Regions from separate parts of the Homo sapiens genome. Here region 1 is linked to region 2. The links come from fine-mapping of genetic effects on gene expression. A gene starts in region 2. The other region holds a variant in brackets. All regions are shown on one strand. Distances are between the middles of the regions.

The links. PIP is the estimated chance that this variant, and not a neighbour inherited with it, causes the effect.
Region 1: its variant is fine-mapped to the expression of P2RY4 in sun-exposed skin (GTEx, PIP 0.95).

What each region holds. Positions count from the first base shown.
Region 1 is chrX:70,184,829-70,193,169 of GRCh38, forward strand. The region is part of intron 1 of DGAT2L6 (diacylglycerol O-acyltransferase 2 like 6); the gene reads left to right. Among named protein-coding and RNA genes, the nearest start is that of DGAT2L6, 12 kb to the left of the region's middle. The variant T/C (reference allele first, on the strand shown) is at 5,214.
Region 2 is chrX:70,256,025-70,264,365 of GRCh38, forward strand. P2RY4 (pyrimidinergic receptor P2Y4) reads right to left here and starts at 4,180. Exons shown (of 1, transcript NM_002565.4): 1 at 2,142-4,180. The coding sequence starts at 3,600. The coding sequence ends at 2,503. RefSeq lists an enhancer at 6,975-7,269.

The sequences.
Region 1 (8,341 bases), 71 kb before region 2:
TCCATCACCCCAGCATCAACTCAGCTGCGTTGGGCTGAAAAATTCTACCTCCTTGGTGACTTTCAAATTGGTATGTGAAATAGTAGCCTATTTCAGGTTCCCATTGGCTTTCATCTGAATGCCAAAACTCTTAGCTGATCTCTTTGCCTATAGTTTCTCTTGCTCTCACAGTTATTCCAGATTATCTTCCTGAAACAGACACGATCATGCTACTCTTCTGCTCTCTGCTTACTAACCTTTACTGGCTATTCATTTCCTTCAGCATCAGGCCTAATCTCTCCAGTTTCCTTCCCAGCTTCATCTCCTGTACCACGGCTTCCTTAGGCTGCCTGTGTTTTTGCAGGTAATGATGTTACTCCCAGGCCTTGGACTCTCCCATCTCCTGGACTTTGTTCAGGCTCTTCTTTGTGCATGGAGGACCCTTCCTCTACCAATCCATCTGACAAAAATCCTACCTTTCCTCCAAAATTCAACTTTGAACCTTATCTTTCACAAGAAACCCAGAGCTTCTCCAAGACAGGAATTTTGTTTTCCACACGTATTAATGTGAGTTAATACACATGAGGTACTTAAAATAGTTATTGGCACATAATGAATGCTATCTACTTTTTTTCCTACAGCTTGGAGTAAAGATACATGATCTCTCTGATTCTTAGTTTCTTCATCTGTAAAACGAGATAATAAAATTATCCACCTATGAGGACTGCAAGAACATTAAATGAGATAATATACATTAAGTGCTGAACAGAGTGCTGTTTCACAACAAATGGTCAATACATGGTATCAAGGACCATGCTTGCATTATTTTCATCATTTCCATATTTACTCCTTTCACCCTCCCCTTTCCAGTTCCCAACCCTGTCCCCATGGCTTTTAACATAGAGATTTCATATGAGGTAGGCTCATCAATGTTTACTGAATTATTAAATTACCTGTCACTCCTACAAGTTCTTATATTTATAGTTTATTTGGATCCAACAAGTAATCACAAAGCCACAGAAATTCCTCTTTGACAAACTACTTTTGTTTTTTTTTTGTTTTGTTTTTTTGTTTTTTTTTTTTAAATTTCTGAAGGCATTGAGCCAACTGACTAGATTAGGCAAGCATTGCCAACATTCAGATTTAGGTCATTGCCCCGAAACATGAAACATAATGTTTTCACCCATAAGAATTATAGGTTTTCACCTTACACTGGAAATAACTCGTTGCCTATATCCTTACACACACATGCACACCTTATAACTTCAGATAGCCTTTCCTTGTTTGGAATACGGTTTCTCTTCCTATTAACTTTCACCTGCAACTTGGAGAATTGTGAAATTGAACTTCTTCCTTTACTATAATTCAATGTAATGAACATTTATCATAAGCTATCTCTCTGTGTTTGGCACTGTGCTAAAGGCCAAACTTACTGTCTGATAGGGAGAGAGACAGACATATGAGGTACTAATTACACCATCAAACAAAATGAACCAGAACCAGAAAGAAGCACGAGTAATGTCTTGGGAGTGTGCAGAAGAGGGAGTCCTCAATTCTGACCGGGAGATGAGCAAAGATATCACAAGGAAGTGTCATTTGAGCTAAACCATAAAGCCTGAGAGAATTTTGATAAGCAGAAAGTTGGAAAGAGAGTAATAAAAATAAGGGAACAGTATCATCAAAGGCACAGAAATGTGAATTACATGGTGAGTTGAGGGAATGGGAAGTAGACAAAGGTGGTCGGGCCCGTTTCCCATACTTTAGCCATTTGTGTCCCATCTTCTGGCTCTTTCCACAGCTGTGTACCACCTATGCTATTATTACTTAACATACTTTTCCTTCAAATTAAGTCATCTCTGTAGCCTAAATTAATGTATTTTAACAGGAAATTTTATATCGCTACCATGAATTTGCTTTTATTCTCTATGCATTAAAATAACTTTTTATCCATACACCACCTTGGATCATCTAATGTCCCTACAGGGCATGGGAACACTAGGCTACGAAACACTTTGAGAAATACTAGGCTGCAGCATAAGGAATGTGAGTACGGCTACTGAGAGATGAGGCTAGGAAGACACGTGGGGCTAGGCCAGTGAGGGCCTTGAATACCAAGCCAATGTGTTCAGACTTTATTCTGTCAGCAGTTGGAAAATATTGATGGTTTTGGAGGAAGCAAACAACATTATGTGATTGTGCTTTTTAAAAATTTCTGGCAGAGGTGTGGGAAATGGATTGGAGGGGAAGAAACCCATAGCTGAAGGGCAGACAAAAGGCTGCAGTCCAGACTAGAAAAAAATCAAGTCCTGGACCATAGCAGTAGCAATGGGGACAGAGGCAGGAAGACGGATAGGAGAAGTTTTTTGTTTGTTTGTTTGTTTGTTTGTTTGTTTGTTTGGAAAGGGAAAGAAGTCAAAGATGGCCTAAAAATATTGAACCTATGACATTTATCTTGAGGCCTGAAAGATGAATAGGAACTAGCCAGACACAGAGCTGAAGAGAGAGTTTTCCAGGCAAAGGGGACCGCAGGCAGAGAAGCCCTGAAGCTAGAGAGCACTTGAAGGAGCTGAAAAAAATAGCATGGTGGAATGCAAAGAACAAGGTGGTGGCCAGAGACTAGATCACCAAGATCTCCTAACCCTTCTAAGCCAGGGTTAGGAGACTGGACTTGATCCTAAGGGCCACAGGAAACCATATTTATTGTTGAATTGTTAAATTACCATATACTCCCACAGGTTCTTATATTTATAGTTAACTTAGATACAGTAAGTAATCATAAAGCCACAGATATGCCTCTTTGATAAACCAGCCATGTCCTTGGCTACATGCTATAGATTGATAGAGACAGACTTGCATTTAATGCACTGGCTGCATCATGGCTCAAATGGAAGCAGGCAGCCTATTTAGAAGACACTGGTAGTCATCCAGGTGAGAGATAATGGTGGCTTTGACCAAGTGGTAGCATGGAGGTGGGAAATAGAATAATTTGAAAGATATCTGGAAGGCAGAACTGGCAAGAATTGGTAAATGACTAAAGGGAAGTAACAGCTAGAGCTTAGTGGTTAAGGGTACAGTCTCTGGGGTAAGACAATCTTGGTTTTCAGCCCTGGCCACTCACCTGCTAGCTGTCTAATCTTGGAACAATGTAATCACTCTGAACCTCAGGTCCTCATCCACAAAATGATAATGATTACTGTTCTCATGGGGTCTTTATGAAGATTAAATAAACTATGCCATGTGAAACAGTTTTACATGATAAGTGTACAATAGATATTGGCTATTAATCTATGGGCTAAGTGAGCAAGTGAGAGGAATCAGAGATGATTTGAAGAAAGGACCCACTTAGGTCATATTGGTACCATTTTTAACTTAAGCTAGTAATCATTAGCAATTTGAGGCTGTACAGGTTTAACTTTTTTTAAAGTCAGGATCAGGGATAAAGAGTGACATTATGTAATGATAAATGGGCTGATTCACCAAGAAAACAACTATCCTAAATGTGCATGCATCAAATGATAGAACTGCAAAATATATGATGCAAAAACTGATGGTGCTGAAAAGAAAAATAGACAAATTAGCAATTATATTTGGAGACCTCCTTGACAACTACAATCAATCAAAACTCACCTAACATGAAATAAATAACCCATCACTATAATCTTAATTTTAGAAGGTTAGAAACCTTCCAAAAAGAGATTTTCAGACCCAGATGGTTTCAACAGCAAATTCTACAAACATTTTACAGAAAAAATATCACGAATTCTATGCAATCTCTGCAAGAAAGCTTAAGAGAAAGGAACATTTCCCAACTCATTTACGAGGCCACATCCTGATACCAAAATCAGACAAAGATAGTACAAAAAAGGAAAAGAAAACTACAGACTAAGATCCCTCATATATATAAATGAAAAAAGCAACAAAATATTAACAAATTGAATCCAGCAATACATTACAAAGAGTAATGCACCATGACCAAGTGGCCTTTATCCAGGAAGGCAAGTGTAAATATTTGAAAATAAATCAATGTAAACTACCATACTAACCATCTAAGCATGAAAAAACCCCATGTAATCATATCAATTGACAAACTTCAACATGTAATCATGATAAAATCTCTCAGCAAACTAGGAATAGAAGGGAACTTCCTCAACCTGATAAAGGGCATCTACAAAAAAAAAAAAAAAAAAACCCTACAGTTAACATCACACTTGATCATGAAAGATGAAATGCTTTCTCCCTAAGATTAGAAACAAAGCAAGGATGTCCACTCTCACCACTTGTATTCAACGGTATGCTAAAAGCCCTAGCAAATGCAATATGGCAAAAAGAAAAAAAGAAATAAATGCATACAGATCGGAAAAAAAGAGAAATAAAACTGTCCTTACTTGTAGATGACATGATAGTATGTATGGAAAATCCCAAGGACTCTACTTTAAATAAAACAAAAACCTCCAAGCACTAACAAATGAGATTAGCCAGTCACAGGATACAAGATCATGCATAAAAATTAATCACATTTCTATATACTAGCAGAGAAGAATTGAAAATAGAAATTTTAAAAAAAATACCATTTAAATACCTTCAAAAATAAAATGTTTGGGAATAAATCTAGTAAACCATACAGGATTCATAGGCTAAAAACTGTAAAATGCTGATGAATAAAATAAAAGATCTAAATAATTAGAGACATACCATGTTCACAGATTGGAAGATTCAACACAGTAAAGATGCCAATTCTCCCCAGATTGATCTATAAGTATAATGCAATTCAAGTAAAAATCACAGTCAGGCTATATTAGGTAATAGTTTCGCATAAATATTAAATTTCCCAAATTTGGTAATAGCATTGTGGGTGCTATAAGGGAAGAGAATATCGTTTTTCTTGCAAAATACACGCTAAAAACTATTTAGAAGCAAAAGGTTGTAATCTCTGTGATGTATTCTCAAATACAAACATATATGTATATACTTACATTTTTACATTTAAAGATAAATCAAACGTAAAATGTTGACAATGGGTAGATGTAGATGAAGATTAAACAAGACTTTATTAAAATAATCTTGTTTTTTCAAAATAAAAAGTTTAATTAAAAAACCTCCATCAAGAGTTTTTGTAGCAATAAACAAGCTGATTCAAAAATTTATATAGAAAAACAAAGAAACTACAAATAATTAAAACAATTTTGAGAACGAATAAAGTTAAAGGAATTATACCATCTGATTTTGAGACTTAG[T/C]ATAAGACTAGAGCAATCAAGACAGTGATGTATTTGTGAAGGAATAGATATATTGATCCACAGAACAGAAAAGAGTCAAGAAATAAACACATGAATATGGTCAATTGATTTTTGACAAAGATGAAAAAGCAATTCCATGGAGGATGAATAAGTCTTTTCAAGGAACGGTGTAGGAAAATTTGATGTCCATATGTGGCAAAATGAATCTTGACCCAAACTTCAGGCTCTATAAAAATTAACTCAAGTATGACATCAACAAGATGGTGAATGGGAAGTCCATCACATCTCTCCAGAGCAACAAGAATCTGGCAGCCATCCATGGACCAAAGTACCTTTGTGGGAATTTTGGACCCAGGTAGGATGTTGCAAAACTCTAGTAGAGTCCAACACCAAGGAAGGCTGTTTTGAGAGGGCAGGCCCACACCCAGGCTTGTTGACTGTGGTGAAGGTTACAGACCTGGAAATAGCCTCATCCCCCTGTAAACTCAGCTACAATGCCATTTGGTCATGATTCTGCCACCAAAATCATCTTCCAAGGCATCCAGGAGGAGTCACAACCATCTGTGCCTCAAGTTACAGGACTGCCAATCTTGGTCCCAGCAGTATACCCTGAAGCAGCCTTATAACTCAGCTCTGGTCACACTCTGCTGTGGTATGGGAGCAATTATGCCTTCCCAGGGGCTTGCTGGGAGTCATGCCTGTCTGTGCCATAGGAAGCAAGCTTGCTAACCTTGGTATCACAGCAGATCCTGAAACAGCCCTGTAACTTGGGTCCAGCTCCATTCAACTGTACAGGGCAGTCCTGTCCACCCAGGAACCTGGCAGGAGGCACACCTGTCCATGCCCATGGAGGCAGGCCCGCAGGCCTCAGTCTTGGCTATAGACCTTGAGGCAGTTCTATGACTTGGTTCTAGCCCTTCTCAGCCACAGTCCCGGGCCTGTCCTGCCTGCCCAGGGACCCACCCAGTGACCTAGCAGAAGCCCCCCCATAAACCTGCTGAAATCACTCTATAAAGACTGATTTGCTCCTTCAAATGCACAGAAACCAGTGAAAGGCTATACAAATAACAAATAATCCAGCAAACATGACATCATGGAAGAAAACTAGTATAATTCCAGTAACAGCCCAAATAAATGGAGATCTATTAAAGGCTTGAAGAAGAATTCAAGATAATCATCCTGAAGTGCAGTGAGTTGTAAGAGAACACAGACAACTGAACAAAATCAGAAAAACAACACATAAATGAGATGAGAAGTTTAATAAAGAAATAAAAACCACAAAAAGGACCCAAACAGAAATCCTGGAGCTGATGTATACAATGACAGAACTGAAAACTAAAAGAAAGAGTTTCAATAGCAGACTTGATCATGCAGAAGAAAGAAATGGGTAACACAAAGATAGGTAATTTGAAATTAGCCAATTAGAGAAACAAAAAAAGAAAAAAAATGAAAATGAGTGAAGAAAGCATAAGGAACCTATGGGACACAATAAGCAAATGAATCTACTAATTATGGGTGTCCCATAATTTAGGAGAAGAAAAAGAGAGAGAAAGAAACAGAAAGATTATTTCAAGAAATAATGGTTGGAAACTTCACAAATCCTAGGAAAGAAATGGACATCAAGATTCATGAAGCTCAGAGGATCCCAAGCAAGATCAACTCAAAGAAGAATATCCTGAAGCACATTATAATCAAATTGTCAAAAGTCAAAGACAACAGAGAATATTGAAAGCATTAAGAGAAAAGAGTCTCACCACATACAAGGGAACCTCATCAGCAAACTTCTCAGCAGAAATCTTGCAGGCCAGGAGGGAGTGGGATGATACATTCAAAGTGCTAAAAGATGAAAAAACTGCCAATGAAGAATACTATAACCAGCAAAGTGGTCATTCATAAATGAAGGAACAATAAAGACATTCTCAAAGCCAGGCATGGTGGCTCATGTCTGTAATCCCAGCATGTTGGGAGGCTGAGGTGGGAGGATTGCTTGAGGCCAGTTTGAGACCAGCTGGGGCAACATAGTGAGACTCTGTCTCTACAAAAATAAAAATAATAAAATTACCCAGGCATGGTGATGTCCAGCTACTTGGACTTCCAGCTACTTGGGAAGCTAAGGCAAGAAGATCGCTTGAGCCCAGGAGTTCAAACTTCAGTGAGCTATGAGCATGCCACTGCACTTCAGCATAGGTGACAAAATGAGACCCCATCTCTAACAACAAGAAAAAAAGACATTTCCAGACAAATAAAAGATAAAGGATTTCATCACGACTAGACCTACCTTACAAGAAATGCTAAAGAAAGGTGTTTAAGTTGAAATGAAAGGATACTAAATAACAACATTAAAACATATAAAAATATGAAACTCACTGGTAAAGGTAAATATATCATCAAATCCAAAATACTCAGAATACTGCAATGGTAGTGTGTAAATCACTTTTAACTTTATATCTTTTTATATCATGTATCCATTAACAAATTATTGTAGCTGTAGTTATTTTTAGTACTTTCGTCACTTATGTTAGAGTTAAAAGTGGAAATCAAAAAGTATCTTGAGGCAAATGAAAATGGAAACACATCATACCAAAACTTATAGAATGCAGCAAAAACAGTTCTAAGGGGAAAGTTTATCATGATAAATACCTACATAAAGAAAAAAGGAATGTCACAAATCAATAACCTAACTTTACATCCCATGAAACTAGAAAAAAAAGAATAAAATAACCCTAAGATAAACAAAAGTAACAAACCCTTAGCTAAACTAACCAAGGAAAAAAGAGACACAATATCAAATAAATAAAATCAGAAATAAAAGAGAAGACATTACACCTGATGACACAGAAATATAAAGGTCATAAAAGACTACCATGAACAATCATATGCCAACAAATTGGATAACCTAGAAGAAATGCATATGTTTCTAGACACATACAACCTACCAAGAATAAATTATGAAGGAAGAAAATCTAAACAGATCAATGACAAATGAAATTTAATCGATAATCAAAAACCTCCTAACAAAGAAAAGCCCAGGACCAGACAGCTTCCTAGGTGGTCAGTAGTTCAAGACCAGCTCGGCCAACATGGTGAGTTTGAGACCAGCCTGGCCAACATGCTGAAAATACAAAAAT
Region 2 (8,341 bases):
CCTGGCCAACATGATGCAACCCTGTCTCTACTAAACATACAAAAATTAGCCAGGCGTGGTGATGTGTGCCTATAATCCCAGCTACTTGGGAGGCTGAGGCAGGAGAATCACTTGAACCTGGGAAGTGAAGGTTGCAGTGAGCCGAGAATTGTGCCACTGCACTACAGCCTGGGCGACAGAGCAACTCCGTCTCAAAAAAAAAGAAAAAAGAAAAGACAAACGGCAGCAGGGTTAAGGTGTCAGTGATAATGCTTTGGTTTTTTTGTTGTTGTTGTTTGTTTTTAAGATGGGATAAAATGGGTGATGGAAGAGACTTGAAATAATGAAGAGAGGTAAACAAAGGAATAAGAAAGGGGACCACCTCTTATTCTGGAACTTCAGGGAAGAAAGGGAGAAAGACAGGGCAAATATAGAGTAGTTATCGTGAATGATAACTGGAAGTTGAAGCGTTAGAGCTTCTCAGTTTCGCAGGAGGCAAGGTAACTCTCTTAAGAGATCACAAGAAGGAGATGAATTTGGGGACTTGTGGAGGTGAAAAAGACAGGAAACAGCTGCTGTGGAATGTTCACTAGGAACACACCAGGCTAAGAGGAATGAGAGCTTAGGCAAAGTTCCAGGATGTGAAGTCTTAGTGGGTCAAGCCAGCCTTGTTCTCTGGCTTCATCTGCAATTTCCTCCAGTCCTAGAAGAAAGGAGATTGGCCTAAGGTGAAAGTCAAGGTGTTTAAAGCTAAAGTGCAAGGGAAGACAGCCCTAAAGTAACAGACCAGAAAGTTCATCTCGATTAAGCATATGGGAGTTAAATAGACTGAGGAAATGGAGGAGGCTGAGTCAGTTGGGATGGAAAGAGCAGCTTTACTGGGTGGGGACAGCAGGTTAGGGGAGGTGATGGGCAAAGAGGCCATGGTCATAGGAATAAAAGGAAGAGAGTGCAGATGAGGAACAGTGTACGCAACAGTGGCTGTGAGACTGGGAGAACTAGTAAGAAGAGGAGAAAAAAGCCGGTTCATTTACTCCTAATGGCAGGAGTCCTGCATAGCAAGAAGGTCCTGGATATCTAGGGAGAAAGTGGGAGCCTTTCAAAAAACAAAAAGGGAAATTCAGGGGAACTGAAGTCATTTTTTTTTCCTTCAGTCCAGCCCCAGCCCTACTCTACAGAGAGAGACGCTTAGAAGCCAATAAGAGTTAGTATCATTAGATAAGTAAGAGATCAGAGACAGGTTAGCAAGGGTGGGAAAAAAAGAAAGGCAAGGCTGGGGTCTGACTCAGGAGACCAACAGGCTGGAAGGTGATTTCAGAGGGAGAAGGCCTGTAAGTGTGAGCCCACCCTTCTCAAGAATGCCTGCCAAGAAATTCTTACTTCCCAAGGCTTAGGGGTTAGCTTCTCAATTTCCAATGCACCCCCCTCCCCTCTGCAACTTGATCCAATAAGCCTGTAAGTGCTAAGATGGCACTGGAAGAGAGAAGCAATGAATGGGTGGGAAACTTTAAAAAGAACCTTCCCAGTCCTAGTGCTCCACCCTGGCCTCAAAGTCCTGAAGCCTGATCTGAAAGAGCTGGTGACAGATTTATCATTTATTTGGGGCAGGACCTAGAGAAAGTGGAGAGATCAGTGAAACACTAGCTCTGGGCGTCAATTCTTGTCACCACCTTCCTCTGCACAAATCTGCTCTACTCCTCAATGCTAGAACTTACAGCCATAGACGTGAGAGCTCCACCCCCTCAGTCTGAGCCATCCACTTGTCCTTTTGTTAAGTACAGGAGAGCTGTCATATACATGTTCTCAGCAAACATCATAAAGAAGGTCCAGTCCCATTCCTGTCCCAAAGGCTGTTATCAGCTAAGGTCCCCACCCTATCACAGGACTTTAATTCATGCTGCACACCAGTTCAACAGTGTCAGGCCCCCAGCTACATGCGGGGACCCTGGCATGCAGGCTCCCTGGGATCACACCCTATTCCAGCATCTTGGTAAGCAAGACTATGCTGTCTTTGAGAGAGAACCAGGAAGTCAGTGTGGGTGCTACATATGGCACATCCTCGGCATCTGTGATATGGAAGTTGCCTCCACTTCCTGATTCTGGTTATCACCATCAGATACGTCAGGCCAATCCTGAGATGACTCTGCCTGATCCACCCCTTCAGCTGAATGCTCTGGTCTGGGTAGAGAAACACATGCTATAGGAGGCTGTGGGGGAAATGGGACAGGGAAAGAGGACTGGGGAAGATTTTCAGGAAGATTGTAGGACCAATGGCCCCAGGAAGGAACAGAAACAACGAGAAAGGAGTAGAAGATTGGCATTGGCTAAAAAGAGTCGGCAACTGAAGGGGTTATGAGAGATGAGGTCACCCATGATATCCCTGCCTCCCTGCAACCCTCAGGGTGAGGGCTTCTCTCCAGAGCCTGGAAAAGAGGAAGAAGCACCTTACCAGGTATCACTATTGGGTTCCCTCACCTCTGCCCTGCACTCATCCCCTTTTCTCTCACTTCCCGGCTTCCCGTGTTACAATCTATCTGCCCTAGGAGTAGAGCAGCTACTGTCCTGGGGGGTGGCCGCCCACCTGCAGCTGCTATCCTCAGGCAGGGACACTAGTGCCAGGGAAGAGGCAGCCGTGCGGGGCTGGGGCTTGCCACCACCACAGAGCTGACGGAGCTGACGTCGATATTTGTCCCCAGTGAGCAAGTAGAGCACAGGATCCAGGCAGCTGTTGGCACTGGCCAGGGGCCGAGTCACTTTATAGACCACGTTGACAATGTTCAGTACTCGGCAGTCAGCTTCCAACAGCCTGGCCAGGTAGTAAATGGTGCGGGTGATGTGGAAAGGCACGAAGCAGACAGCAAAGACAGTCAGCACCACAGCTATGGTGCGGAGAGAGCGGAGGCGAGAAGACGACTGTGCAGAGCCTGGCAAGGGCTGATACAGGCGACGAGCCATGAGTCCATAGCAAACAAGAGTGACCAGGCAGGGCACGCCAAAGAGCAGCCCCATGACCGCCGAGCTGAAGTGCACATAGTGGTCAAACTCTTCAGGCCGAGTGGTGTCATGGCACAGGACGGTGGTCCCTTTGTTGCTGGTTGTGACAAAGAACAGGTTGGGCACGAGGCAGCCGGCTACGACCAACCAAACTGCCAGGCAGAGAAGGCCTGCGAGGCGAGGGCGGCCCCAGCGTAGTGCCCGAAGTGGGTGGCAGATGCCCAGGTAGCGGTGCACGCTGATGCAGGTGAGGAAAAGGACACTGCAGTAGAGGTTCCAATAGAAAAGAAAGCGGACGAACTTGCAGATCTCAGTGCCAAAGGGCCAGTGGTTGTGGGCTGCATAATAGTAGATGAGGGTGGGCAGCGACAGCACATACAAGGTGTCTGACAATGCCAGGTGGAACATGTAGGTGGCCGTTGCATCCCAGGGTCGGAGGCGGAAGATGAAGAGCCATAGGGTTGGGGCGTTAAGGCCCAAGCCCAGCACAAAGACAACTGCATAGCTCACAGGCAGCAGGATGAACTTGAAATCCTCATCAAACCAACAGTCCAGCTCCACCTCACTGCTGCCAGGACCTGGGCTGAGGCCTAGGGATCTCAACAGGGAGGACTCTGTACTGGCCATGGCCCCCCTGGAGATGGGAAGGGGAGAAGTGAGGGTGGCAGGATTTCCCTGCCCACCCCCATCCCTGAGCTGGAGCAAAAAAAGTAGAGCAGGGAGAGCAGTGGTTGAAGCACTAGGGAGAGCTGACAGAAGCGCATCTGGGTGCACTCAGGCTAGCCTGGCCCCTACCCAAGCTCCCTTGGTCCAGCTTGGGAAGTGGTGGGCAGCAGGCAGTGCTGGGGCTCAGGCAGGCAGCCCGTGTATTTGGGTTGTACTCACTCTGCAGCTCACTCTGTCCCTAAGAGCCTGGCTGGCTGAAGAGGGTGGAGGCCTCCCAGCACTATCCAAAGTGGGAAGATACCCAGACCCAAAGTGTCTTCTGACTCGTCATCACAGCTATATCCCTGGAAGAGGAGTGTCTCTCCCCACAGTGCCTTCGCCTCTCCTAGTGCCCTGGTCACAGTGTCTCCAGATGACATTTACCTATGACACCTTCCCCACTGCCTGCCTACAGCCCAGGAGCCCCATTGCCACCCTTGCCCAAGAACGTTGGCACATCTCCTACCTGGTCCCCTTGAAGCTGAGCTCAGCTGACTCTGTCACCCTTCCCCTTGGCAGCCAGAGGGCATATCCAAGGAGGTGGAGTTGGAGGTGGGGCCTGTCCCTCCTCCCACCTGGGAGATTAAAAGAGTTAGAAAGGCCCTTTACGATGACCTAGTCCAACCCACTCATTGTACAGATTGGGAAACTGGGGCCCAGCGAGATTACTATTTAACAGCTTTGAAATGACTGCAGGAGGGAGAACACGAGGAAACATCCAAGTTTACTGATGAAGAGCCAGGTCCCTGGAGATAGATTACAGGGGGATCATACAAGCCTGTGTAAGTGAGCAGAAACATGGGAAACGAATTTTCACATGGGCAAGTGCAAGACAACACATTGAAAGATTTTAGAAAATCTAAACTACTGATATTTAATATAAATCTCATATGCATATAATTACAAAGAATGCTTATATAGCACTTACTATGTGACAGGCATTTTTCTAAGTGCTTTATACTTATTAATGACCCCATAGGCTCTCTATGAGCTAGATACTATTATTGTCTCTGCTTTGCTGATGAAAAAATGAAGGCACAGAAAGTTTAGGTGTCTTGCTAGTTAGTGGTAGAGTCAAGATTTGAACCAAGACAGGCCTGCCTTTGGATCAGGCTCTAGCATCCATAACTTAATTGCTATGCTTAAGTTGCCTCTCTAAGCCACTGGCTATGATCCAGGAAAGAATCAACAAATATTTATGGCAGACAGAGGCAGGCAGATCGCTGGAGCTCAGGAGTTCAAGACAAGCCTGGACAACGTGGCAAAACCCTGTCTCTACAAAAAATTAGTCGGGCGTGGTGGCATGCACCTGATGTCCCAGCTACATGGGGGGCTGAGGCAGGAGGAGTGCTTGAACCTGGGATGTTGAGGCTGCAGTGAGCTGTGATCGCGCCACTGCACTCCAATCTGGGTGACAAAGTGAGACCCTGTCTCAAATATAAATAATTTTTTTAAAACCACGAATATTTACTGAGAGCCTACTTTTGCCTGGTCCAGTTCTAGTTACTGGTAGTTCCTTAGGAGTGGACAAAATAGATAAAAACTCCCACCCTAATGGTGCTTACATACTACTGGGGGATAATAAAATTAATAAGTAAAATATGTAGATTGTGATCATCATTATGGAGAAAAATTAAAGAGGGAAGGAAAAGGGTAATAAAGAGGGAAGGAAAAGGGTAATAGAGAGGGTTGTTGTTTTAAATATTAGGAATGAAACCAGGCACAGTGGCTCACACCTGTAATCCCAGTGCTTTGGGAGTCGGAGATAGGAGGATCACTTGAGCCCAGCAGTTTGAGGTTGCAGTGAACTATGGTCAGACCTCTGCACTCCAGCCTGAATGACAAAGCAAGACCCTGTCTATAAGTAAATAAATAAATATTAAGGGTGACTTTTGAATAAAGGCCAGGTGTTGTGAGAAGGGGAAAAGTAAAAAATGAGGTCAGAGAGTTTGGCAGGGACCAGATCATGAAGGTCCTTGGAGGCCATTGTAAAGGACTCTTTGGTGAACGGGAAGGCACTTAGGGTTTAGAGAAGAGAGGTGTCATCTGACTTACATTTTAGAAGGCTCACTGGCCAGCTCTATATTGAGAATAGACTGCAGGGCTGGAGGTACAGGGGGAAGACCAGTCAAGAGGCTATTGCTGATAGAGATGATGGTAGCTTGGATCACAGTGGTGGAGATGATGAGAAGTGGTCAAATTCTGGATAGACTTTTTTAAGTAGGGACAGCAAGATTTACTGATGTGGGGTATAAGAGAAAGAAGAGTCAAAAATTACTCCAAAATGTCCGGCCTGAGCAACTGGAAGAATAGAGTTACTGTTGACAGAGACAGGAGTGGGTTTAGGGGAAAGATTGGGAGTTCACTTTTCAGCCTGTAAATTTTGAGATGCCTATTATACATGTAAGAGGGGATGGCCAGGAGACAGTTCATGCCTCCTTAAGGATACCAGCCAATACATTTCCCATACAGACTCTACCCCTTTCTATACAGTACCCCTCGTCTCTCTTGATCACTCCCAGAGACTTGGTCTGAATATAGTGGAGAAGGTGCAGAGAGCAAGCCTAGATGTTTGAGAGCCTGGTGTAGGGAATTGCCAGCAGCTCAGGATCTGGGGCTCCTGAAGCCAACTAAGCCTCCGTAAGTATATCTTAGGCACTAGAGGCAAACCCGGTCTGGAGGACTCTGAGGATGAGGTAAGCAGTGCCTTTGGGGAGGGGTGAGCAGGCTGGAGCAGAATCCACTCTGCATGGAGCTGAGAAGCAATGGGGACTCTGAACTTACTTGATCCTCAGGTCCTGAGAATGTCACCCAGCTGGATCCTGGGAGTGAGAGGAGGAGGCGGACTTCTAGAATCTAGAATCTAGATCTCTCGGAAAGCCCAGAAACCTGGATGGGGAAACTGAAGATCCTTGCCCTGTGGCAGAGTAAAGGGTGGAATAAAAGGTAGCAGTGGAGGACACAGTCATAACCTGAGTCCTGGACAGCTGACTACTGTGACATTACATAAGAGGCCCAAGTTTTTGAAGCCAGACGGGCTGGTGTTTAAATCCTTGCTCTTCCACTTATTAGTTATGTGAGCCTGGGCGCCTCTTTGTAACTTCCATTCTTCACCAGTGAAATGGGAATAATAATAATACCAATCTTTTAGGGTTTCCTGAATATTGAATTGGTTAACAGGTGTGGAGCACTTTGTGAACCATAAAATGCTGCAAGTTTAGAAGGTGTTTTTTGTTACTGCTTTGCTCCCAGGAATGAACCTGGCCTCTGCAGAGGTGGACAAGCGTGTTTTGAAGTTTGGTGTACACCCAAGGAGAAGCACTACACTAGAGAAGCCCCAGCCTGAGCCAGCTTCCTGCTCCTACTGCTTCAGGCTGGTTTACCTCTGCTACATTTCTCCTGACTTAGCTCTGCTACGTTTCTGCATGTCCCGACACAGCTGCAGCTGCTGCTGCTGCCACCACTGCCGCCCAGTGGCTATTTCAGGAAAAGACCTCTCCCAACCCTCCCCAACCGGCACACCTGCCTGGCTTTTACTGTCCTCACCCAGGGCCAAGAGGAACGGAATGCAGCAGATCAGCCTCACTCTCTTCTGTGAAACTCTTCTTTACTTTGGTTCCTGTGACTTTGCTTTACTCCGGTTCTCCTCTTCCTCTGGATGTTCCTTCTGGCCCCTTCCCTGGCTCTTTTTTCCCCTACTTCCCCAACATGTGAGCCTTCCCCCAAAGATCCTCTCCTCTCCTCTCTCCTCTCCTCTCCTCTCCTCTCTCTCCCTCTCCACCATCTCTCTCCCCCTACCCCCACCCTCTCTTCCCCTTCTCTCTTGGAACATCCACTCTCATGATTTCAACTATGACTCAGAGGTTATCAAAAATTGTAATGGCCAAGAGACTCCAGCATACAGATCTCTCTCTAATCAAAATGCATCTCTCCTTCTCTCACACTCTTATCACATTTGATTTCTACAGAGATGGCACATACCACAGGCAGCCTAGAATTATACTCATTTGTGTTTTTGGCCATCTCCTCCTGATCCTCCCACCCCCATACCAGAACCAGAGCTCCTTGAGAACATGTACCTCATTTTACCTCTGTCTTTCCCATAGCCTTCCAGGTAAAGTTATTATAACATATGTTCTAGATATTTCCTTTCAAATTATATTCTCTGCTGTCCCCCAAAAAATGCCTTCCAATTCAGAGTTAAGAAAACAAGTACCTTCCACATAGTACATGTTCAATAATAGTTGTTGAGTGAATGAATGACTTAATTATAATTTGTTGAACTGAATGGTTCCCACATCTATAATCTAAGCCCTATATATGTTGTTTGCTATAGGACACACACACTTGGGTATCTCATTGATGTCTGGAATTTAGTATGCAGGAAAAGTTTACTATTTTTTCCCTGACAGAGATAAATAAGATGTACAAATACCATTATTGCTGACACCCTTCCATTGCCCTACTCCTCCAGTTTGTTCCAGTCCTCTCCCTCCTGGCCCTTCACATCTAATATTCGTAATTGTCTTGATGACAGTTTCTTTGCAAGGTTTGCTGTTTCCTTGGGGCTTTAAGAAGGAAAGGGGGAAGAGGCATGATTTCTAATCTCTTTATCTGAGTTAGGAGGAAAGGAACGAAGGAAGGGAGAGAAGGAGGGAAGGAG